Linked DNA regions of Homo sapiens. The protein of the gene in region 6 purifies or fractionates together with the protein of the main gene of each other region. This does not show direct contact. Each region holds a gene or a part of one and is shown on either strand. Other genes may lie near its edges.

Region 1 (3,500 bases), on a different chromosome or scaffold from region 6:
ACTGTTATTCTACATTTAGTAGTAGGTACTCAGCACTCTATAAGAGCTTCCCTTCTTCCGCATTGATTAATTTATTGCTATGTATTTATGGACTCTGTTTTTTCCAGTGTTTGATAATTTATTACTCTTCAGTTCTTTCTTGCTTTCTCCTATTTCCTATTTGTATTTCTTGTCTTTCACAATGAAAGCCCTAAGTTCCTAGCACCATCAAAACATTTACTTACTTGCTCAAACTTATGATGTATCTAAAGTAGTTTCAGAATTGCTTCATCCATACCACTACAAAAAATAAAATTACTAAAAAGAGTGAAAATTCGTTATTCTTCTCTTTCCCTTAGCTCCATCAAAACTGAGGTACATAAATCGTTTTTTATTTATTTATTTTCCTGGGGGGCTGTAACACTCGGGGTGTGGCCTCCTGTGAGGTACATAAATTGAATAGTGGTTTATAAGTTCTTGGATTAGTTTTCTTTTTCCCCTTCAATGTATTGTGGTATGCATTTGAAATATGATTGGATTAGTTTGCTTTCAGTGTTAGATATTTTTCTCCATCCCATCCTTACTGATTTTAAAAATATATGTAAATTGTTAACATGTTTCCAAAGGTTAAAACTGTATAGTAAGATGCTCCTTGAAATAACATTACCATATCCCTTCAATCCTTTCTATCCATTACCCCTTATAGATTACCAGCTTCATCGTTTTCTGTATTATTCTTCCTTTGTTTCTTTGTGCTAACCATAAAGAGGTATATGTATGTTTTCCTGTTTTCCTTTTTTGTTTAACACAAAAGATGGCATACTGTATGCTCATCTGCACTTGTAAAGACTTCAAGGCTTAAGGCTTTTAATGCATTTAGTCGGTTTAGGTTTTTTTTTTTTTTTTTTATTGAGACGGAGTCTCACTTGCACCCAGGCTGGAGTGCAGTGGCACCATCTCAGTGCACTGCAGCCTCCACCTCCCAGGTGCAAGTAGATTCTCCTGCCTCAGCCTCCTGAGTGGCTGGGATTACAGGCGCCTGCCAGCACACCCGGCTAATTTTTATATTTTTAGTAGAGACAGGGTTTCACCATGTTGGTCAGGCTGGTCTTGAATTCCTGACCTGGTGATCCGCCCTCCTCAGCCTCCCAAAGTGCTGGGATTACAGGCATGAGCCACCGCGCCCGGCCAGTTTAGGTATATTTAATTGAAGATTTTAGAACCCACTTTAGGTAAATGGAAACATTTTTTGGCCATGTTACTCCATGAAGAAAAGCAAATAACCAAATGGCAGAGAGGGCAAGGATGAGTTAGGCTTCAGAAACAATTGGGACTGGATATTGAATACCTTCATTATTGTCTTTACTTCTTGGTCTTGCTTACCTCTGTTCCAGTGGCTTTTGTTGTTGTTGTTGTTTTATGGTGCAGTTTCTCAGTAAAGCAGTAAATAGGGCTGTTAACAGCATTTGAATTTTAGAAACATCTACCACTTTTCTCATTTCTAGTTTAACAAAAAATCCTAGGGAAGATTTCTTTGTTCCAGCTTGGATAAGGTGTTTCCTCTTGGGCTAACCTGTTACACTTACTAGGAGTGTTTAGAGCAAGGCCACCAGTGCACATCTGCGGGGGAGCATCATTTACAATAAATACAATGTTGTGCTCTAGAGGCCTGTTTACGTATGCAGGTCACATGCTCCTAAGAAATAAAAAGGTATATCTTACAATAGCCCATTTATCAAAAAATCATTTTCCTGAAATTGGTAACAATATTAAATCATTGCTATATGGGATTAATGCCTGGTTCTCATGGAGATCTCTTAACATTGTGCATTAGCAGTTTTCCATTTTTTTTCAAATCTGAAATCATGGTGTTTATCAATCCTTGCAGTTAGTAGTGAAATTTGGTGTTGCCCTTCATGATGCCAAATAACGTTTCTAATTTTCTGCTTATTTTTGCTTTCTGTTTCATTGACTGTTTCTTTGAAGGCACCACATTTTGGCATTTTAACGTGAAACATGGTACTCTCTGTCAACACTTGTGGCACCCTCAGAATTGTTACTTGCATGCCTTTTGTGAGACAAGAGAGGACAAAGACTAATAGTAAAGAAGTTGGCTGAGTGGCTTTATCTGCGTGGTAGGAGAGATCAGCAGATTGAGTACCAGGAAAGCACAGAATGACATGTTAGTTTTTATAGCTGAATAAACAATCAGCCTCTTCTATTAACTACCCATTGTAATAACTGCATTCTTAAGTACCAAAGTGAATTTATATATTCTGAGACAAACAGTGCTCTAACAAAGCAGTATCAAATGAGGTATATGGGTGTATGTCTAGAAAAATAATGTTAGTGGTAGTTTTCCCTTTGTGGGAAGATTATAGAATACTTTTTTTTCTTTCCTGCATGTTATAGGGTGGTTTTTCTTTTTGGGGGGCGGATTTTGAAACTGTATTGCTTTTTTATGATTAGAAATAAAGTTATAAAGTAGATTTACACTTAATGTATCTGGTATATGGAAAGAACACCAATGGGAGATGTTGTAATCTTGTTACTTCCTAGCTGTGTTTTACTTAATGTGTGAACTGGAATTCCTTTCCTCTTAAGGTCATTGTGAAGCTCAGACGAGATAATATTTAAAGTGCTTTGTAAACTTTAAAGTAGTGTAAGTCCAAAAGTATGGTGTTTGATATAAATCTTTTCCTTATAAGTCTGATGGAGCCATTATCTGATGGATTGATTTTTGATGATGGTTTTGGATAAAGTCTGCCCATATCTGTAAAGAAAATTAAGGGCTCCCTTCCTTCTGAAAGACTGCATCAAAATAATAGGCAGTTCTTGGTTGTCTGTGGTATTGGAGATCTCAGAAATACCTCACAGGATCTAATAGCGCTATCTTTTCAATTCATCAAGCCGTTTCATCATGGCTTCCTCAAGAACCCAGTTTCTACTATGTTTCTGAAAGAATTTTTATGGTTGACATTATATTGAATATTTCTTGTTTTACAGTGGTATGTTTTAGTTCTTAAAAGGACATAAATGAGAGTTATTAGTTACTTGTTAAAACAGTTCAAAGGTTCAGCATGTTTTGTCACTATTAAGTATCCAGTTTTTGAAAAATAGTAAATTTAGAAAAATAAAATGTCAACTGAAAAGAGCAAATAGTATACTTCTAATTTTGTACAGTGTTTAATATACCCCACCCCCCCATCATGCGTGCATGAACGTACACTAAAGTAGATGAAACTATACCAGAGTATTAATTTACTCTGGGTGATGGTTTTATTGGTAAGGATTTTGTTTGCAGCTTTATTGTTTCTGTAACAAGCACACATTACTTACATAACTAGGAATAAAACATTTATTTTAAAGGGTTAATGCTACTTAATTGCAGTTTTTTCCCCAACAAGTTAATAGTTAAGAACCCTGATCTCAACTCTTCGTTTTTCCAGGTTATTTATTTCATAAGATGACTATCCATAAATCTTCCGATGAACGAACCTCTTTATGACCAGAGCTCCTGG
Region 2 (3,500 bases), on a different chromosome or scaffold from region 6:
ATTAGAAGGTTATCAAATTAAGAGAAATGTGAATGAAGTTTTATGTGGTCCTATGTGAGAAAAGTCTCTACACTGGTCCTACTTGATTGTGTAACATAAAAAAGCCTGTAGTGCCAAAGTCTAAGTGGCAGTTTTTGGCCAGAAAGTAGCTTGTTCTAAGCCTTGGAAGCATTAATTGAAATTTCGTACCTATGAGTTGGTGTTTTCTTCCATTAGTTAACTAGAATTTGGGATGGGAGAAACTAAATCTAGCTTATGAGTAAATCCTCTTTTTTTTTTAAAGTTTTTATTTTTTTTGCAACAATTTCTAGCTCAGAAAAATTGCAGGTATGGTACAAAGGAATTTTTTCTGAACTAGTTGAGAGTAAGCTGCCAACATTATACCCCAACACCAGTGAGTGTGTACTTCCTACAAAGTCTTTACAATGCAAATACTAAACTTAGGAAACTAATGCTGATGCATTTATGCTATCTAATCCTCAGATTTATGTGTTGCATTTAGTTGCCATGTCACGTAGTCTCCATTCTGAAACAGTTCCTCAGTCTTTCCTTGACTTTCATGATCTTAACAGTTTGAATGTTATTGGCAAGTTATTTTATAGACTTTCAATTTGGGTTTGTCTGGCCTTCCCTTAGGATTGGATTTAGCTTAATACATTTCTTGGCAGGAATATCACTTCCCAAAGTTAGTGTACTGTAAGTTATACTATGTCTGGATGTCACTCTAAATACATTCCTGACGCTGCATTTTGAAACTTAGGAAGAACACAGTGTAAGAAACCCTGTGTCTTCATTAAAATTTAACTACAAAGGACTGGTGATTACTGTGCTCTTTTGCAAAGTAGTGTTTCCATAGAAAAGAATTTTGTGGTGTCTATATGCCTGTTCCTTATCATTAAATCATTTTACTTTGCTGAATTGCAGATTAGGATGTTTTGGATCATATAATCTTTATGTTTGACATGGGAGCTATTCCATATTAAGGGTACTGTGTAACATTTTCTTCTATCATATTAAACATAATGGAAAAAGTAGGCACATTTTCTTCGTTTGAATGGTGCTTATAAGAAATTCCAAATTCTGTTTCTTTTCATTCCATCTGCTACTTTGCATTTATACTTTTGCTTCATATTGGGATTCTCAGATGATACTAAGGGAGTGAAAAGGCAACCTACAGGGTGGGAGAAAATATTTGCAACACATAAAGCTGACAAAGGGTTCATATGCAGAATACAGACAACACCTTCAAATAAAGAAGGACAATCTATTAGAAAGCTGGATGAGAGTTGAACTGTACAAAAAAGTCTTTTTAAATGACCAGTAAATATATGAAAAGGGACTCAACTGCAATGAGATGCCAGTAGGCACCTATCAGAATGGCTAAAAAATCTTTAAGATGGACAATAGCTAAGCATTGGCCAAGGCGTGAAACAATTGGAATTCTCATACATTGCTGATAAAAGTGTAAATTGATAAAAGAACTTCAGAAAACTGATGCCCATTTAAATTCAGCCTGCACATACCCTTATGACCACAAATTCCACCCAACTGAAATGAATGTAAGTGTGGATATGACAACTCTAGTTACAAAGAATCAGGCCGGGCGCAGTGGTTCATGCCTGTAAATCCAGCACTTTGGGAGGCCAAGGCTGGCGGATTACGAGGTCAGGAGATCGAGACCGTTCTGGCTAACATGGTGAAACCCTGTCTCTACTAAAACAAAAAATCAGCTGGGTGTGATGGCATGCACCCTGTAGTCCCAGCTACTTGGGAGGCTGAGGCAGGAGAATCGCTTGAACCCAGGAGGTGGAGGTTGCAGTGAGCCAAGATTGTGCCACTGCACTCCAGCCTGGGTGACAGAGCAAGACTCCATCTCAAAAAAAAAAAAAAAGAACCCTTTCTGTTTTCAAAGTTAATATATCCCCTTGTTTTACATAGTTAATGGCTTTTGTTGTTTGTTTTTAAGGCAAATTTTAATAATGTCTACGTTGCTTCCAACTGTTGTGGAGTGCTCTTAAGTCTATCAACCATTTTAGTCACTGGATTGTTGCAGGTAGCCCATATACTATAGGGTCTGCACCAAATGGAGCATGTAACGCTAATTCTTTGTAATTTTTCTCTTCTAGTTATTTGCTTATAATGAATTGTGTTGCCCTGAACTATTTGGGAAAGAAGAGTTTGTAGGGTCAGGAGGAAGTATTAATGGATGAGGTTGGGAGGGGTGTATAAGGAGAAAATCTATAATGTGATGGGCATGCAAATATAAGCAAGAAAAATTCTCATAGGTCTCAGTCACAGGACACAAACATTTTGAATTATATCATGACGGTATAGTTACTTCATAAACTGCATATTTGAATTTAATTGAACTCTTATTTCAAGTTTCAAATTTAGGATTCAGATATACCTACTGAGTTGAATTCTAAGTTAACAGCTTGTGCAAATGATTTTGTCATTGCATGTTGACATATCTGCCTCTTTTCCTCTGGGAAGAGGCACAGAGAAGCTATACATTATGTTTATTTGACTCATTGAGGCAAAGAAAGGGGTTCATTAGCCAGTAGCCTTAAAATAAATTTTAAGCTGGAAAAAATTTAACCATAATAATACCACAGCATTCAGATTAATTGAGAGTTTACTTTTAAATTTTGAAAAGGTAGTCATCTAAATGTCTAACGTTATTTTTTAGGTGTAAATACGTTGCGTGACAGTGAATTTTAATTTTCTAAACAAATATCTTTTTTCTCATCTTCTTCAAGCATGGGTGGTAAAGTACCACCTGCTACTCAGAAAGCTAAATCAGAAGAAAATACCAAGGTAAGTTTTAATTTCATTTGTATGTTTTGTGATAAAGTACTATAAGATTTCTTAGGGGTTGTTTTTAAACTGCTGCTCTCCAGTTATCACTCCTGATTTCCCCAAGATCACTTGGAAATAAGACCTTTTAAGACCTCTTTATCTTTATAACTTTGTAGACCCGAATTCTCTGGATTCTGATTTAGAACTGAGAATTTAGGGTTGGATGTTCACTGTTTTAGAATACATGACAATAAAAGTTACATGTATGGCCTGTAAGTGGTAAGCTCCGTGATGGTGTGCATCCGTAGTCTTCATCATTGCCTTACAGTGTGTCATATGCATTGTAGGTACTTTATTTATTATTTGCAGAGTAAATGAAGTATCCCAGGTCAGTAATTTAATTTTTTTGCTCTACTACCTGAGTGATATTTGTGAGTGTGAATCATGGTGTTGGGTTAGCATATTTGCTTAAAGGACGTGTAAGATTAGGAGAAGGTTACCAGTAGCTGAAGTTGAGAGACAGATGAAGGGGAACATACATGTTTAAGAATGTTTTCTTTTATTTGTTTGTTTTTTCTTTCCTGAGACAAAGTCTCACTGTGTCACCCAGGTCTGAGTGCACTGGTACAATCTCGGCTCACTGCAACCTCAGCCTACTGGCTTCAAGCGATTCTCCTGTTTCAGTCTCCCGAGTATCTGGG
Region 3 (3,500 bases), on a different chromosome or scaffold from region 6:
GGTTGAAATATTCCAGGAATTACCAAAATGTGACACAGAGACACAAAGTAAGCACATATTGTTGGAAAAATGGCATTGATAGACTTGCCCAAGGCAGGGTTACCATAAACCTTCAATTTGTAAATAACGCAACATCTGTAAAGTGCATTAAAGCCAAGGTATGCCTGTAATGTGAAATAGTGTCAAGCGCATAAATCTGTGTGTGTTACTACTAAATTAGGTAATCCATTTTGGGAGGAAGGTAGAAAATCAAGAAGTAAAGAAAGGCAAGATGCCAGAATTTTCGGAGCAGCTTCCTAGAAGATAGAGCTTGAGCCCTTAAAGGGTTCAGCTCCTCAGGAAGGGAAATAAAGGATTTACACAAGAAGTTGACTTCATGGAAACAGCAAAGATGTGTTCCAACTCCACTAAGAGCTGATGAGTCACCCTCATTCCACTTTGGGAGACTCTTTGATTGCTGAACGTCTCACCTCTGTCTTAGGGGTTCCCCTGGTGCTGCCGGAGTTGCGGTTGACAATATCAGAGTCAGTGTAGGGCAGGGGTTTATGTGATGCTTAGATGCTAACAATCTAATGCAAAATTAAGGAGTTGAATTACCAGCAGTAATTGTTAGCAGAGCCCTTACCATCTCCATGGTAAACTAAAAAATTTCCACAAATCAGCCACAAGTAGAGAGCCAGCCAAATTTGGCTCCTAACATATTTCATCATTCACTTAAGTGAAACTAGTGTAACTTGTTAATGTCTCCTTATAGGTTTTGCTTTTGTTTGTTTTTTGAGATGGTGTCTCGCTCTTGTTGCCCAGGCTGGAGTGCAGTGGCACCATCTCGGCTCACTGCAAGCTCCACCTCCCGGGTTCACACCATTGTCCTGCCTCCGCCTCCCAAGTAGCTGGGACTACAGACACCCGCCACCACGCCCGGCTAATTTTTTGTATTTTTAGTAGAGACAGGGTTTCACCATGTTAGCCAGGATGGTCTCGATCTCCTAACCTCGTGATCCGCCTACCTCGGCCTCCCAAAGTGCTGGGATTACAGGCGTGAGCCACTGCGCCCGGCCTATAGGTTTTTTGTGTGTGTGTATCATTGTAGCTAACTATACTTTCCATATTTGTTTATTTTACAATAGAAAAATGAAAAGCTTTTTTGATGTTGAGCTGATGATCTTGATGTTGATGTAGATTTCTACATAATTGACATGTCCCTCTCCACAACAGTTCCTGGATTATCTTGATTTCACAGTGGTTTTAAGCCAAAGGGGATTGAATGGTGTGTATTATTTTATAACTGAGGACTTCAGTTTGTGGTCACTTGAACTATCATAGGTCTTAAATAATGTAATAACCTAAGTGAATGGTATCAATATTATTCTAAAGTCCTTTAAATGTAGCCATATTTGTCATTTTCTTCTCCTTCAAAGTGAGTGATGCCGAATGAGGGATGTAGAGAAGTGAGGGAGATGGTAGATTCTGAATGTGGCTTCTTACTGAAAGTAGTTAAGTGTTCATTTGCCGTGGGATAAAGGGATCCAGCCGTCCCTGAGTGGCTGTTTTGGTGAAAAGAGTAAGATAGGTTGTCTTTATCTCTGATTAATATATTTTTTTCTTTATGTCAGTCTCAGAGAAAGATGTCACATCTGCTAAAGCACTGTATGAACATTTGACTGCAAAGAATACAAAATTGGATGATCTGTTTCTAAAGCGTTACGCATCTTTGCTGAAGTATGCTGGAGAGCCTGTCCCTTTCATTGAACCCCCTGTGAGTATTTCTTAATTAAGGGGAAAAAATACCTCTGCAGATTTATGTGCACTTCATAACAATGTGTAAGAAAATAAGTTGAAGACTTAATTACATGAGGATTAGATCTCTGTGAAGAGCCCTCAGGGGATGGCTTGAGGGACTGAGCAGCATGCCTTGGCTGCGGCAGTCGGAGAACATAGCTCTCTGGGGCCACAGTTTAAAATACAAGGTCTGTCTCAGACCTTCAGCTATAGGCATGGATTTACCAAATGTCCTTGGGGCAGTTCTCTCATTTCAACTTGAAATAGGATTTAATGGCCTGTAGTTCAACAGCCAAGCATATTATGTCAGTGGTAATTACTTGTTCATTTACATAAGTTGGTTTTTATTTCTTCGTCTAGGAAATTTTGCCTTTTTTTTTTTTTTTTTTTTTTTTTGAGATGGAGTCTCGCTGTGTTGCCCAGGCTGGAGTGCAATGGCACGGTCTCGGCTCACTGCAACCTCCGCCTCCCAGGTCCAAGCGATTCTCCTGCCTCAGCCTCCCAAGTAGCTGGGATTACAGGGGCCTGCCACCATGCCTGGCACATTTTCGTATTTTTAGTACAGATGGGGTTTCACCATGTTGGCCACGCTGGTCTTGAACTGCTGACCTCGTGATCCGCCCACCTCGGCCTCCCAAAGTGCCGGGATTACAGGCGTGAGCCACTGTGCCCGGCATGTTTTCTTTAATAAGAGAAATCACATATGCACAATTCCTTTTTGTTATGTCATTGAACTGAGTCAATACACCGTGTTTATTTCAAACACCTCAGCCTTCCATACCCATACCTCCATATGTGCACACACACATGCTTGCACATACACACGTATACACACACGCACCCTACCTCCTGCTGCTAGCTTTAACTCTGAACCCGAGGCCCTTGAACTTGTGATTTCATGAAACAAGGAAGGAGTACTGAAGCTTGAGGGGCAGCATCTTCCATGGGCCTGGCAGTCTTAGCTACCAGTTGGTAGTGTTTTATGATTTTTTAAGTTATGTACCATCACCTCTTGCTGGTATCTCTAACTTCCCTCTTTTTTTCTCCTTAACAGGAAAGCTTTGAATTTTATGCACAGCAGCTAAGAAAATTGAGGGAAAACTCTTCTTGAAATAACCAGGCGATACTTTGTTTTGTATATATTTGTGATTCTGTGTCTACATGTTATTTTGAAGTATATCTGAGGGAAAAATAAATGAAAATTTTCTTTATGTACTTATGTATGTGTGATGCATGTTCAAAGTCTTATTGACCATAACTCTGTGCACTTGGTTATTGGACATTTTTGGAGTTTTTTTCTCTGGGAAAAATCGATAGTGTTTTCTTCAATGCTGCTGCTGTGTGAAGCCATACTTTTTCAGGATTCTTCCCCTAATTGGCTCTTTGGTTTCCCTGCTCTGTTTCATTTATTTCATTAAAATGTTATTCCTTTATTTAAGATTCACTTATTAGTCTGCTGTTTCTCTGAAAAATTTTAGAGCTAGGTATAGTGACCGTGAACTTTCTAACGCATAATATTCTGTGATACAGCCATTCCGTACATGTGTGAAGTCCTGCATAACTTTCGAACTTTGTTAAATGTTGGCACTAGGAGTCATCAGATCTAGGCTTCATCATTTTCCAGTGAGAAGCAGAGACCCAAAGGGCCTGTTACTTGTGCTTGGTCAGGGGACTGTCTGTCATGCCTGGAGGCTCTTCGGCACACTTCCCCATCTTTCCCT
Region 4 (3,463 bases), on a different chromosome or scaffold from region 6:
AGGACGACGCTGCGGCCACAGGAAGAATCGTGCTTTTCTCAGGAGACAGAGCCTGCCGCTTTCATCGGGGGCTCAAAGGGCTCCATGGTCATAAAAGGCAGAAGAACCAAAGTCTGACTGTTTCCAATGTGTCACCAGGCTGGAGTGCAGTGGGGCTATCTCGGCTCACTGCAACCTCCACCTCTCGGGTTCAAGGGATTCTCCTGCCTCAGCCTCCCGAGTAGCTGGGATTACAGGCACCCAGCACCACGCCCAGCTAATTTTTGTATTTTTAGTAGAGTCGGGTTTCACCATGTTGATCAGGCTGGTCTTGAGCTGCTGACCTCAGGTGATCCGCCCACCTCGGCCTCCCAAAGTGCTGGGATTACAGGCGTGAGCCACCTCGCCCAGCCTATTATTTTTTAAAGTAACAGCTTTATTTAGATATAATTCACATACCATAATATCCACCCTTTTAAAATGGACAGTTCAGTGCTTCTCAGTACATTCACAGTGTTGTACAATTGTCCCCACTCTCTAATTCTAGAACATTTTCATCATCTCAAAAATCCTGTACCCATGAGCAGTCTCTCACCTTCCCCTTCCCCCAGCCCTGGCAACCAAGAACCTTTCTGTCTCTATGGATTTGCCTGTCCTGGACATTTCATATAAACAGAGCCATATATAACTAATATGTGGCCTTTTGTGTCTGTGTCTGGCTTCTTTCAGTTAGCATACAGTTTTCAAGATTCATACATGTTGTAGCATGGATCAGTATTTTATTCCTTTTTATTCTTTTTTTTTTTTTTTGAGACGGAGCCTCTCTCTGTTGCCCAGGCTAGAGTGCAGTGGCACGATCTCGGCTCACTGCAACCTCCACCTCCTGGGTCCAAGCGATTCTCCCGCCTCAGCCTCCCGAGTAGCTGGGATTACAAGCGCCCATCGCCATGCCATGCCCGGCTAATTTTTTTGTATTTTTAGTACAGATGGGGTTTCACCATGTTGGCCAAGCTGGTCTCGAACTCCTAACCTCAAGTGATCCACCCACTTTGGTCTCCCACAGTGCTGGGATTACAAGCCTGAGCCACTGTGCCTGGCCTGTTTTTGAGTCAGGGGTCTTGCTCTGTCACCCAGGCTGAAGTGCAGTGGCGCAATTACAGCTCATTGTAGCCTCGACCTCCCAGGCTCAAGTGATCCTCCCACCTCAACCTCCTGAGTAGCTGGGACTACAGGCAGCTGCCACCATGCCCAGCTAATTTTTTTTTTTTAGTAGAGACTGGGTCTTGCTATGTTGCCCTGGCTTTGGGCATACATTCCTTTGTATGTCTAATACCCCACTGATGGTATGCCACATTTTGCTTATCCATTCATCTACTAGTGGACACACGGGTTGTTTTTAATTTGTGGTTATTAATAATGCCACTTAGGAATATTGATGTGCAAGTTTTCGTGTAGACATGTTTTCCTTCTTCTTGGTTCTGTACTTAGGAGTGGAATTGCTGGGTCATATGGCAACTGTGTTTAGCATTGTGAGGAACTGCGAGACTGTTTTCCAAAGTGACTGCACCATTTTAAATCTCCACCAACACTTGTTATTCTGTTTTTGTTGTTGTTGTTATTGTTTTGAGACAAGGTCTTGCTCTGTCGCCCAGGCTGGAGTGCAGTGGCGTGTTCATGGCTTGCTGCAGCCTCAACCTTCCTGGCTCAGGTGATCCTCCCACCTCAGCCTCCCGAGTAGCTGGAACCAGCCACAAACAGCTGCCCACATTGGTGACTTGGGCCACCACACCCTGCTAACTTTTTTTGTATTTTTTTTTTTTTTTTTTTGTAGAGATAGGGTTCTGCCATTTTGCCCAAACCCTCTGTGTTTTTTGTTATGGCCATCCTAGTGGGCGTGCAGTGGTATCTCACTGTGGTTTTGACTTGCATTTCCCTGATGACTAATGATGTCGGGCACCTTTTCATGTGCTTATTGGCCATTTGTAGATCTTCTCTGGAGAAATGTCTGTTCACATCCTTTGCCCTTTTTTTTTTTTTTTTTTGAGACAGAGTCTTGCTCTGTCGCCCAGGCTGGAGTGCAGTGGTGTGATCTCGGCTCACTGCAAGCTCCGCCTCCCAGGTTCACGCCATTCTCCTGCCTCAGCCTCCCAAGCAGCTGGGACTACAGGCGCCCGCCACCACGCCCAGCTAATTTTTTGTATTTTTAATAGAGACGGGGTTTCACCGTGTTAGCCAGGATGGTCTCGATCTCCTGACCTCGTGATCCGCCCACCTCGGCCTCCCAAAGTGCTGGGATTACAGGCGTGAGCCACCGCGCCCGGCCCCTTTGCCCATTTTTTAACTGGGTTTTTTTAAATTGATGAATTATTTTTAAAAAGCAAAACTGATGTCTAAGCCTGTTTGAAGAGTATCAGTGTGGCCCATTGTCTCAAGTTGTCACTGTGGGTCAGATATTTTTAAGTTTACATGCATAAGTTTTAGTCACGTGCCGGGCTGTTGGGTTCAGTGGCCCCAGGAGCTCTGTTCACCCGGCACCCGTGTTATACAAGGTGTGGTCCTCAGTGCGTGTCACCGATGCTATCATTGGGAAGCCCCTGCTCCAGACAGGGAAGGGGTGACCACTGTTGCTTTCATGGAGCAAAACGATGCTTGGGTTATCTTCAAGTGCATTATTCCTCTTGGTCACGCTACTGGGATCAGATGTGGGAAATCCGTGTCCCTCATGCTAAAACGTGTGCTTCTTTTGTTTTACCCAGAAGGTGCTAATCGGAAGAAGAACTTGCCCCCCAAAGTGCCCATAACGCCGATGCCACAGTATTCCATTATGGAGACGCCGGTGCTGAAGAAGGAACTGGATAGGTTGGCGGTCTTCAAAGCTTGTTGCCCACAGTGGTCTTTTCCCTCCCATAAGTAACTGGGTTTCACACACCTGGGGGCGGAAGGGCCCCCCGTGTGGTCTCTGGGTCTGGTGGATGCAGCTGGCCTGGGCTTGGGAAGAAAGGTCTGCAGTCAGCTCCTTAGGGAGCATGTGTGACTGCTGGGTGCCGGGGTGAGCCTCCCAGTTCTCTCTGCGTACCATTCCCCAGGGAGGCAACACACAGGATTCGTGCATGTCACCCCTGGGCAGCAGGTCCCCATATTCCATGTAGATGGAAATGGCCCCCTAGCCAGAGCAGTCTGAGTGAGGAGGTCTGATTTTTTTTTTGAAAGACAGAGTCTTGCTCTGTCGCCCAGGCTGGAGTGCAGTGGCGCAGTCCCGGCTCACTGCAACCTCCACCTCCCGGGTTCAAGCGATTCTCCTGACTCAGCCTCCCGAGTAGCTGGGACTACAGGCACACGCCACCACACCAGGCTAATTGTTGTATTTTTAGTAGAGACGGGGTTTCACCATGTTGGCCAGGCTGGTCTCGAACTCCTGACCACGTGATCCACCCGCCTCGGCTTCCCAAAATGCTGGGATTACAGGCGTGAGCCACTGTGCCCG
Region 5 (3,500 bases), on a different chromosome or scaffold from region 6:
CTTGAGTCAGAAAGTGCTGCAAAATTAGCAGAGTTGAAGAGAAAAGCTGAACAAAAAATTGCTGCCATTAAGAAGCAGTTGTTATCTCAAATGGAAGAGAAAGAAGAACAGTATAAAAAAGGTACAGAAAGCCATTTGAGTGAGCTAAATACAAAATTGCAGGAAAGAGAAAGGGAAGTTCACATCTTGGAAGAAAAACTTAAGTCAGTGGAAAGTTCACAGTCAGAAACATTAATTGTACCCAGATCAGCAAAAAATGTGGCAGCATATACTGAACAAGAAGAAGCAGATTCCCAAGGCTGTGTGCAGAAGACATATGAAGAAAAAATCAGTGTTTTACAAAGAAACTTAACTGAAAAAGAAAAGCTATTGCAGAGGGTAGGGCAGGAAAAAGAAGAGACAGTTTCTTCTCATTTTGAAATGCGATGCCAATACCAGGAGCGCTTAATAAAGCTAGAACATGCTGAGGCAAAGCAACATGAAGATCAAAGTATGATAGGTCATCTTCAAGAGGAGCTTGAAGAAAAAAACAAGAAATATTCCTTGATAGTAGCCCAGCATGTGGAAAAAGAAGGAGGTAAAAATAACATACAGGCAAAGCAAAACTTGGAAAATGTGTTTGACGACGTCCAGAAAACCCTCCAGGAGAAGGAACTAACCTGTCAGATTTTGGAGCAAAAGATAAAAGAGCTGGATTCCTGCTTAGTAAGACAGAAAGAAGTACATAGAGTTGAAATGGAAGAGTTGACCTCAAAATATGAAAAATTACAGGCTTTACAACAGATGGATGGAAGAAATAAACCCACAGAACTTTTGGAAGAAAACACTGAAGAAAAGTCCAAATCACATTTGGTCCAACCCAAATTGCTTAGTAACATGGAAGCCCAGCACAATGATCTGGAGTTTAAATTAGCCGGGGCAGAACGGGAGAAACAGAAACTGGGCAAGGAGATTGTTAGATTGCAGAAAGACCTTCGAATGTTGAGAAAGGAGCATCAGCAAGAATTGGAAATACTAAAGAAAGAATATGATCAAGAAAGGGAAGAGAAAATCAAGTAAGTTTTATTTCAGCTTGAATATTTTTATGGCAGTCCTTCTTAATTAAGTCTCCTTTTTTTGTGCCTAATACAGTTATTTTAAATTATTTGGATAAGTTTCACCAACCCAAAATATTAAACATAAATCCAATATGTTAAATATGAGGAGAAATAAAAACAATTTAGGGCAAGTGGCAGTGTTATTCCATGTCCATTTAGGAGAGAAAAACCTTTTCTTGCATATAAGATTCTGGTTATTAGGGACATATCCAAGTAATTATTTTCTTTTTGTTTTGTTGTTTTTAGTATTAGCATTATTATTATATAACATAGATGTGTTTTGAAAAAAAAATTAAAGTGGAAAACAAAAATTCTCTGGTCCCCAGGACCACTACTTAGAGGTAATCATAGTTGATATGTACCTGGACACACACACACACACACACACACACACACACACACTCACTCTCACACTCTCTCTCTCTCTCTCTCTCAAAAATGTTTTCATACAATGAACTCATACTGTATGCACTGTTTTAAAGACCAGGTAGCTCCTTGCAGCTTGTTCTTTGTGTGGCAGCAGTTAACGGTACATTTTTATTACTCAGACAGGAGCAGGAAGATCTTGAACTGAAGCACAATTCCACATTAAAACAGCTGATGAGGGAGTTTAATACACAGCTGGCACAAAAGGAACAAGAGCTGGAAATGACCATAAAAGAAACTATCAGTAAGTAAAATTAAGTTCCATAAGGAACAATTATATCAGCAGAGGCTATAATTTAAGCTTATCATTTTTGCAGTGGTGGTAAGTGCATTAAGTCATTAAACTGGGGAAGAAATAATCCTTGCCCAATAACATTCTCTAATGGGAACCTGCCCTGCTTGGCAATGACTTACCTTAAGGAGAGAGGGAGCAGGTAAAACAATCTGAAAGTATTAGCTAATTAATTACCTTGTAAAGACACTTTTGCTCAGGGAGAGGATACATTTGATCACTGTTGAGCTAGATGTCTCATTAAACATCTTAAAATGCTTATATAAAATTAAATTTCATCAAAATTAATTGGAATGAGAGTTGTTACTGAAATTGAGATACAAATATTAACTCTTGACTAATGTGTTTTCTTGTGTGTGTTCATTTTTATTTATTAGATAAGGCCCAGGAGGTGGAGGCTGAACTTTTAGAAAGCCATCAAGAAGAGACAAATCAGTTACTTAAAAAAATTGCTGAGAAAGATGATGATCTAAAACGAACAGCCAAAAGATATGAAGAAATCCTTGATGTTTGTACCTTATTTCTTCTCTCTCACTTTTGAAATTTAGCTGTAATAGATTTCATGGTAGTGCCAAAGATTTCCTTTTCAAATGTGTTTTTTGAACGAAAAGGGTTTTTTTTTTTGACTCAATATTATTCAAATTAGTACTGTTATATGCAGATTTATAAAGTTGAGTTGATTTCTGCCAGGATTGTAGTTTCCTGATGAGATTCTGCTAACTAGGCAGCACAGTCCCCTTGCTAGTATTGAAGCAACAGTAGATACTAAAAGGAAGAATAGATTCTTTCCCATCTGCCTCACAGATTCTGACTGAACTGTGAGGGGAACCAGACTAAGAATCAAGACCCTGTGCTTCGGTGAAGTCTAAGTAATGGGATAGTGAGTGTGTATTTAAATGTGGCTGCTTAACTTAGCTGGAATCTTTCTGGGAGGGACAATCAACTTTACTCTTATCTCTACCCAGTGTGTGGAGGTTGATTGGTCTCAAGAGAAGAAAGCTGGGAAAAAATGGAATGCATAAGCCAAATCTTTTATATTTAGTGGAAGGTTATTTCAAAATACTTACTCTACTAATGCCATGTTGCAATTCACAGAATATGCCACTAATGCATTGCCATTAGCAAAATAAGATAAGCCATGAAGATACACCATGAAGATAAATCATAAATGCTAGTTAGTACTTTGGACTAACATTTGAAAATGTTTTCAAATGTAATACAATATAAATTGTTCTTGGTTGGGTTACAGATTCTGTAGTTGCTCTAAGCCTTATTTCACTATATGCTAAGAATCTTTTGGTGATTAAGAATTCATAAATCAAAGAATCATACCTCAGCTGACTATGTCAGCAGAAGTCTGAGTCGGGAACAGATTCTAATAATTATTTTAAATGTAATTGAAATGGCTAGAATTCCAAGATATAACACATGCCTATAAATGCCACCTTTTATAATTCTTGAGCTTTATATGTCATTATGAAAAGATTTAAATAATTTCACATTTTCTTATACTTCCATAGAGGATATATGTGCTAAATGAAAAAAAAAAAGTATTATTTCTTGAATGCCTAGAGAGTGTTGGAAGATACAGTAAAGCTAGTTTAGTTCTACTTTTTTTTTTTCTGTTTTTGTTTTTCAGAAGGAAAAGCCAGTTCAGTGTAGTTAAGTAATTTCCCTAAAACTAC
Region 6 (3,500 bases):
ATAGGTTGTAACCTGCACGTGGGGTGGTGGTGGAGGCTGAGGCCAGTGCTGTCTGCGTGGTCCACATGACCCTGGGGTCTGCTCACAGGCTGGACGACTGTGGCCTCACGGAAGCACGGTGCAAGGACATCAGCTCTGCACTTCGAGTCAACCCTGCACTGGCAGAGCTCAACCTGCGCAGCAACGAGCTGGGCGATGTCGGCGTGCATTGCGTGCTCCAGGGCCTGCAGACCCCCTCCTGCAAGATCCAGAAGCTGAGGTGAGGCGGGGCCTGGCACTGCCTCTGGCCTGGTGCAGTCTGCTTTGGTAGCCCGGCAGCAGGGGACAGAGCCGCCAGGGGCGCGTGGGCAGCTGCAGGTGGACAGGCAGTGGCAGCAGACATTTCCAACATCAGCCAGAGGCACACAGGCCTGGCGGTCTCACAGCGGGGGGGACAGGGCCCTTCCTGCCTTATCCCAGCCCCCGCACCCAAGATCTGGCCCTGCCCGCCATCCCTAGCCTTCCAGCATCACCACAGACCCCCACTGAAAGGTGTGTCTGCAGACAAGGTTTCCCTGGGTCGAGCCACATGCGTGCCCTCCTTCACTCGGCCTGGAGACCCCAGACCCCAGAGCCCCGTCCAGGGAAGGAGCAGGTATAGACCTGCCGCCTGAAGAGTGCTGCTCCGGGCTCTGGGCTCTGGCAGGCGAAGGGCGTGGCAGCTTGGCTCAGGGGAGCCCTGCTGACAGCCAGGTATGCTCCAGCCTCCAGAACTGCTGCCTGACGGGGGCCGGCTGCGGGGTCCTGTCCAGCACACTACGCACCCTGCCCACCCTGCAGGAGCTGCACCTCAGCGACAACCTCTTGGGGGATGCGGGCCTGCAGCTGCTCTGCGAAGGACTCCTGGACCCCCAGTGCCGCCTGGAAAAGCTGCAGTGAGTTTGTGTCCTGCCCCAGGGCCCATGCTGGCCGCTGCCTGTCCCCCAGCCAGCCCCCTACATAGAACATCGCCTGCCAGGAGCCGTGAGGAGGGGACTCAGGTCACAGGGGCCTTGTGGTGCTCTCCTTTCCCCATGATGCTGGGTCTGGGGCCTTGTGGTGCTCTCCTCTCCCCATGATGCTGGGGCTGGGGGGATCTGTCATCACCCTCCCTCCCCATCCAGTTGTCCTTTGCAAGGCACAGCTGCCCCAGGACCCGACGGTGGGAACAGATGCCTGGCCGTGAGTCAGGTTCCACTCACCGCCTCAGTGTGTGTGGGGGACCCGGCCATTGTGAGTTGACCACAGCCTGGGACGTGCAGGTGGCCCTGCCCTCCAGAGGCTGGTTTCTTTCTCCCGGGCCTGGTTGGGCCCCAAAGTCTGAGGTCCGGGAGGGGGTGAGGGGTTTCCAGAAGGAATGCCGGTGTCCACAGAGGCCCGGGCCTCTGGATGAGTCTGTGGGGGTCCCTCAGCACTGACACCTGATGCCCAGGCAGAAGACTGAGGGGAGATGAGACACCAGCACACCCCGTGCTCCCTGGTATCACACCCTTGGCTGGTGCACATTCCTGTGTGGTGCTGAGCTCTGCTGTCCCCCAGGCTGGAGTATTGCAGCCTCTCGGCTGCCAGCTGCGAGCCCCTGGCCTCCGTGCTCAGGGCCAAGCCGGACTTCAAGGAGCTCACGGTTAGCAACAACGACATCAATGAGGCTGGCGTCCGTGTGCTGTGCCAGGGCCTGAAGGACTCCCCCTGCCAGCTGGAGGCGCTCAAGTAGGCACTGGGCCTTGGGGGGGTGCGGGGTGTGGGCTAGGGGGGGTCCCGTGCTGCCTCACGTGTGACCCGTGTCCCCAGGCTGGAGAGCTGCGGTGTGACATCAGACAACTGCCGGGACCTGTGCGGCATTGTGGCCTCCAAGGCCTCGCTGCGGGAGCTGGCCCTGGGCAGCAACAAGCTGGGTGATGTGGGCATGGCGGAGCTGTGCCCAGGGCTGCTCCACCCCAGCTCCAGGCTCAGGACCCTGTGGTGAGTCATCTCCGCGAGGCCTCCTTCCCGGAGGGTCGGGCGGCGGGCCGTCCTCAGAGCTCTCCCCCGCCCCTGGGCTCATCTCAGGCCATGAGACGGTGCTGAGGAAAGTCTGTGGTGGTCCATGTCCTGCAGGATCTGGGAGTGTGGCATCACTGCCAAGGGCTGCGGGGATCTGTGCCGTGTCCTCAGGGCCAAGGAGAGCCTGAAGGAGCTCAGCCTGGCCGGCAACGAGCTGGGGGATGAGGGTGCCCGACTGCTGTGTGAGACCCTGCTGGAACCTGGCTGCCAGCTGGAGTCGCTGTGGTGAGTGTGGCTGTCGGGGCAGGGCCCTGTCGCCCAAGAGAGGGCCAGGGTGACCGAGGAGACCAGGGGAGGAGTGAGCGACTCCAGGGAAGCTGCTGGGCTCAGCTCCGACCTTCAGAATGCATAGGCCAGGGAGCAGCCTGTGGTTTGATGGGAACAGTGCTTGGGGCCAAGGACCAGGTGTAGGTGCCCACTTGCTGGGAGGCTGTCAGATGTTTTTGCTCAGGTCCACGTGGGGCCTTCAGGGGAAGGGCCAGTCGCAGCTGTGGGCCAGCCTGGGCCCCTGCCAGGCGTCAGTCCTGTCTGTGTCCACAGGGTGAAGTCCTGCAGCTTCACAGCCGCCTGCTGCTCCCACTTCAGCTCAGTGCTGGCCCAGAACAGGTTTCTCCTGGAGCTACAGATAAGCAACAACAGGCTGGAGGATGCGGGCGTGCGGGAGCTGTGCCAGGGCCTGGGCCAGCCTGGCTCTGTGCTGCGGGTGCTCTGGTGAGTGTGTGAGGGACACGAGTATGCACATTTGGGAGATCATATGCCCGTGTGTGCACACAAGGGCGAGAGTGCACGAGTATCTGTGTGAGCACGAGTGTCCGTGTGTATGTGAGCACACATGGGTGAGGCGAGTGTGAGCACGTGTGTGAGCATATGAGTGTGAGCATGGGTGTCCGTGAGCATGTGAGAGTGAGCACGTGTCCGTGTGAGCACGTGAGTGAGCACGAGGGTCCGTGTGTGAGCACATGGGCAAGAATGAGCACGAGTGTCCGTGTGTGAGCACATGGGTGAGCACGTGTGTGTGAGCACATGGGTGAGAGCACGAGTGTCCGTGTGTGAGCACGTGAGAGTGAGCACGAGGGTCAGTGTGTGAGCACATGGGCAAGAATGAGCACGTGTCCGTGTGTGAGCACGTGAGAGTGAGCACGAGGGTCCGTGTGTGAGCACATGGGCAAGAATGAGCACGAGTGTCCGTGTGAGTGTGAGCACATGGGCGAGAGGGAGCACGAGTGTGTGTGAGCACATGGGCGAGAGAGCATGAGTGTCCGTGTGTGAGCACATGGGTGAGAGCACGAGTGTCCGAGTGTGAGCACATGGGTGAGTGAGCATGAGTGTCCGTGTGTGAGCACGTGAGAGTGAGCACGAGGGTCCGTGTGTGAGCACATGGGCAAGAATGAGCACGAGTGTCCGTGTGTGAGCACATGGGCGAGAGTGAGCATGAGTGT
Region 7 (3,500 bases), on a different chromosome or scaffold from region 6:
CGCTCTGTCATCCAGGCTGTAGTGCAGTGGTGCGATCTTGGCTCACTGCAACCTGTACCTCCTGGGTTCAGGCAATTCTCCTGCCTCAGCCTCCCGACTGGCTGGGACTACAGGCACACACCACCACACGTGGCTAATTTTTGTAATTTTAGCGGAGATGGGGTTTCACCATATTGCCCAGGCTGGTCTCAAACTCCTGACCTCATGATCCGCCCACCTTGGCCTCCCAAAGTGCTGAGATTACAGGCATGAGCCACTGCGCCTGGCCAGAATGGCCTACATTTTCAAGCAGTAGTCAGATGAAAAAAATCTCAGCATAACAGTAGAGTTTACAACCAAATCCTCAAAGTTAATTTAAAAATAATATTTCATGTTTCTTGTCTATATCGAAGGCTGAATTAAGTCACATGCTATAGTGTTGGTAACATTACAGGATATTTACCTTCTCTTGGCAACTCTCCTGGAATATAAAACTGAGGCTCACGTCACTTATCCTATGTGTTATTTGAGACATCTAAAAATAAACGAGAAGATAAAAAACAGAGGTGATCTCATTTCCTCTTCTAGCTTTTTCATAAGCCAGAGGAGCCAAGGGCCTAGGTGTCTAGAGTAGGGGTACAGTGGGGTCAAACTGCACTAAAAGCAGCATTTCTCAGTGTCTTATTGAGTAATTGAACTTTCTGGGCTACTTTCAGTGGTCTGGCAGCCTTGTAAATGCTCTCTGTTGGCTCATGTTAGAAAAATTTTCCTCAAGTTATTTTTAGGAGATAATTGAATTACAGAACAACAAAAAAATCTATATTCTCTGTGTCTTGTGGAGAAGTAGGAGGCAGGGGTGAGCATTCAGAGCAGAAAGACAGACCTGCTTTGTGGGCAGGTAAAGCTGAGATTGCTCCATTCCTAAGCGTTAAATACAGAGGTGCTGGCCTTGGAGATATCTTGATGATTCAGGCCTATGGGTTTACTATTTATTCAATGCAATTTGTTCGACATTCAATATCTAGCTGTTCTTAACTGGTGTAAACCTAGGAGAAAATCCCAAGAGAAAAATCTTGTCTCTGTAGACTAAACTATATGAGCAATTTAGAGGATAGGTTCTGCTGGATCGGTTCTTCACAACAGCAAAAAGGGAAAGATTTGCCCTGCTTCACCATCCTGAACTTCTGTCAATGCCAAATCCCCATTTAATAGCTTAAATTTCTTCCTTAAACCATTAGAAAACTTGTATTAAACTTTTTTTCCTGGCCTTCTCATTGCCTCTAGTGTGAGGGTCTCAAAAAGAGTATTTGTTGATGCTAAGTTGCTTTGTTTTATTGATGGGCTGTAGTAAGTTTTACAAGTGTTTATACTTCTGCAGATATTCAAAACACATCTGTTTCAAAAAAAGAAAGAAAATATGTCACAACCTCAAAGTGGTAGAAATTCTGGCCAAACACAGAGTGGATTTAAGAGGGGGTAGGGAGAGATGATGGCAGTGATGGGGGGTAAGCAGGATGAGTGAGGTTGGCAATAGGTTTGGATAGAAATTACTTTTGTGTTGCCTGCTTAATAAAAGCCACATAGCCTAATTGTATTTTTGACATGCCACTATATTTGAAGTCCATATTGCTATAATAATGTTGTATTGTTCCACACAGCCAGACTATCAGTGGTATGCTCTTGACCAGCTTCCGCCAGATGTACAACACAAGGCAAATGGTGAGACCACAGCTGTATTGAGCATTCTTTCATGTTTACATCTTAATGGGATCTTTTGGGGATGTTTACTCAACATACATTCATTCGTACTTGGGGAGGACTTACTATAAAGTTGTGTTACATACATAACTTTAATTTGATGCACCTGGGGTTAAATTGAACTCCTTAAGACAAAGAAAATGTGCGAATGCAGAAATGCATGAACCTCAATTCTGGCTTCTGTTCCTTTTTCAGTCTCAGAGTCAGAATTCCATCTGGGGTTAGAAATGAAAACTGTAAGCAGAGCTGTATTATAACAACAACAAAGCTCTGCAATTGTACTACAAAGCACAGATGCACACCCACTATTCCAGGTTGAGTTTGCTAGACAGATGTTTTAAATGTCACTGGCAGACAGACAGAGGAAACCAAAGGCTCGGAACTGTGTTCCCTTATGACTAAATGTCAGACTCCAAGGCAGGGCTCTTAGTTTAGGCCAGGGTTGCCCACAACGCCCACCTCAAAGTATGCTGGGGAAAACTAAAAGTCACTTATGAAGTACTCACAACTAAGAGTACTTTTTTAAATCTTATTTTTTATTGATTTAACATTTTCTGTTTTCTTTCTAGAATCTGCTATACTTTCTACTGCTTGTTTCTATGGTCTTGTGAGGCCACCCAGAAGCGGGCTGTATAAACTGAGCTATAATCAAAATCCCACTTCTATTCTCATCAAGTATACATAATCAAAAGTTAGAAATGTCTGCTACATGTTTAAAGTCTCATATGACACACACCTGGGACTCTAACTTGTTAATTTCCAAAGATTTGAATCTATCTAAAAATGCTGAAGATGAGCTATGTAGTCTAATTTCAGGCCATTCTTGAAATTTGATCTCGTTTGAAGTCAGAGCTGAGATCACAGAAATCTAGTTTTTAATACAAGGAGTCTGTTATGGAGTGTAAATAGGGAGTCAGGGACACCACATGTAGTTTTGCAGGTTGTGAACTTTACAAGTCTGAGGGGCTCATCATGGTACTCTATGTGAATGGAGCCTGCTGAAGTACAATACGCAATCTGGACAGCTGTACACAGCAGCAATGGGAGTGACAAAGGCCATAGATTACAACAGCATCATAGAAAAGAAATATGAAATGTGAGAATTCCATAATAAAATATCCAGGTATTTATCAAAACACTATAGGACTCTCTTTTTTCTTTGCTTTCTACTACAAATATAGCCAGTGGTTTTAATGAAGTTCTTGAGTTCCAACAATAATGGAGTTGTTTTATTAGAAAGGCATACCATTAACCGGAATGTGTGTTGCATAATATATGCAATTTTAAAATCTATTATGGTATAATAACAGAATTGCTACCCAATTATAATTTTCCATTTTATATTGCTCTGGAATGACTATTAAAGATATTTTCTTTCTGAATTGGAGTTTAATAACTGGAAAATAAAATTACTTAGTACAGAATTTAGTAATACCATAAGGTCATTTATATATCATTATTAGATTCTTGCTGGACCAATATTACACAAGCTAATGATTACATAAAATAGAAATGAATTGTGATGACATTCAGAAACTAAATAGAATATGCAATAATGAAATGTTGTAGTCAGTGTATGAGACTTACTGATTTTTGTCTAGCTAGGAAAAATGTAGTGAGCTTTGTGATGTATAAACATACCATGTAACAGTGTCTACAGATGTAAAACTACAACAAAAAAATCTCCATGATGTACCAACCTAAGCTTTTTTTTTTTTTTTTTTTTTCGGAGACAGTCTTACTCTGTCACCCAGGCTGGAGTA

The links.
Region 1: the proteins of RNH1 (region 6) and ZNF638 fractionate together in Homo sapiens (co-fractionation; one large-scale study listed by BioGRID). This does not show direct contact.
Region 2: the proteins of RNH1 (region 6) and ST13 fractionate together in Homo sapiens (co-fractionation; one large-scale study listed by BioGRID). This does not show direct contact.
Region 3: the proteins of RNH1 (region 6) and LRPPRC fractionate together in Homo sapiens (co-fractionation; one large-scale study listed by BioGRID). This does not show direct contact.
Region 4: the proteins of RNH1 (region 6) and SLX4 purify together in Homo sapiens (co-immunoprecipitation; one large-scale study listed by IntAct). This does not show direct contact.
Region 5: the proteins of RNH1 (region 6) and GOLGA4 fractionate together in Homo sapiens (co-fractionation; one large-scale study listed by BioGRID). This does not show direct contact.
Region 7: the proteins of RNH1 (region 6) and TNIP3 purify together in Homo sapiens (co-immunoprecipitation; one large-scale study listed by IntAct). This does not show direct contact.

What each region holds. Positions count from the first base shown.
Region 1 is NC_000002.12:71,338,282-71,341,781, forward strand, and holds part of ZNF638 (zinc finger protein 638), read left to right. Parts: intron 1-3,500.
Region 2 is NC_000022.11:40,850,140-40,853,639, reverse strand, and holds part of ST13 (hsc70-interacting protein), read left to right. Parts: intron 1-2,759; coding exon 2,760-2,817; intron 2,818-3,500. UniProt on the Homo sapiens protein: One HIP oligomer binds the ATPase domains of at least two HSC70 molecules dependent on activation of the HSC70 ATPase by HSP40. Stabilizes the ADP state of HSC70 that has a high affinity for substrate protein.
Region 3 is NC_000002.12:43,887,990-43,891,489, reverse strand, and holds part of LRPPRC (leucine-rich PPR motif-containing protein, mitochondrial precursor), read left to right. Parts: intron 1-1,127; exon of another isoform or gene 1,128-1,267; intron 1,268-1,613; coding exon 1,614-1,756; intron 1,757-2,833; coding exon 2,834-2,890; 3' UTR 2,891-3,500. UniProt on the Homo sapiens protein: May play a role in RNA metabolism in both nuclei and mitochondria. In the nucleus binds to HNRPA1-associated poly(A) mRNAs and is part of nmRNP complexes at late stages of mRNA maturation which are possibly associated with nuclear mRNA export.
Region 4 is NC_000016.10:3,584,144-3,587,606, reverse strand, and holds part of SLX4 (structure-specific endonuclease subunit SLX4), read left to right. Parts: exon of another isoform or gene 1-671; intron 672-2,735; coding exon 2,736-2,838; intron 2,839-3,463. UniProt on the Homo sapiens protein: Regulatory subunit that interacts with and increases the activity of different structure-specific endonucleases.
Region 5 is NC_000003.12:37,326,771-37,330,270, forward strand, and holds part of GOLGA4 (golgin subfamily A member 4), read left to right. Parts: coding exon 1-1,055; intron 1,056-1,645; coding exon 1,646-1,767; intron 1,768-2,192; coding exon 2,193-2,323; intron 2,324-3,500. UniProt on the Homo sapiens protein: Involved in vesicular trafficking at the Golgi apparatus level. May play a role in delivery of transport vesicles containing GPI-linked proteins from the trans-Golgi network through its interaction with MACF1. Involved in endosome-to-Golgi trafficking.
Region 6 is NC_000011.10:497,243-500,742, reverse strand, and holds part of RNH1 (ribonuclease inhibitor), read left to right. Parts: intron 1-88; coding exon 89-259; intron 260-743; coding exon 744-914; intron 915-1,557; coding exon 1,558-1,728; intron 1,729-1,809; coding exon 1,810-1,980; intron 1,981-2,115; coding exon 2,116-2,286; intron 2,287-2,601; coding exon 2,602-2,772; intron 2,773-3,500. UniProt on the Homo sapiens protein: Ribonuclease inhibitor which inhibits RNASE1, RNASE2 and angiogenin (ANG). May play a role in redox homeostasis. Required to inhibit the cytotoxic tRNA ribonuclease activity of ANG in the cytoplasm in absence of stress.
Region 7 is NC_000004.12:121,136,822-121,140,321, reverse strand, and holds part of TNIP3 (TNFAIP3-interacting protein 3), read left to right. Parts: intron 1-1,637; coding exon 1,638-1,698; intron 1,699-3,500. UniProt on the Homo sapiens protein: Binds to zinc finger protein TNFAIP3 and inhibits NF-kappa-B activation induced by tumor necrosis factor, Toll-like receptor 4 (TLR4), interleukin-1 and 12-O-tetradecanoylphorbol-13-acetate.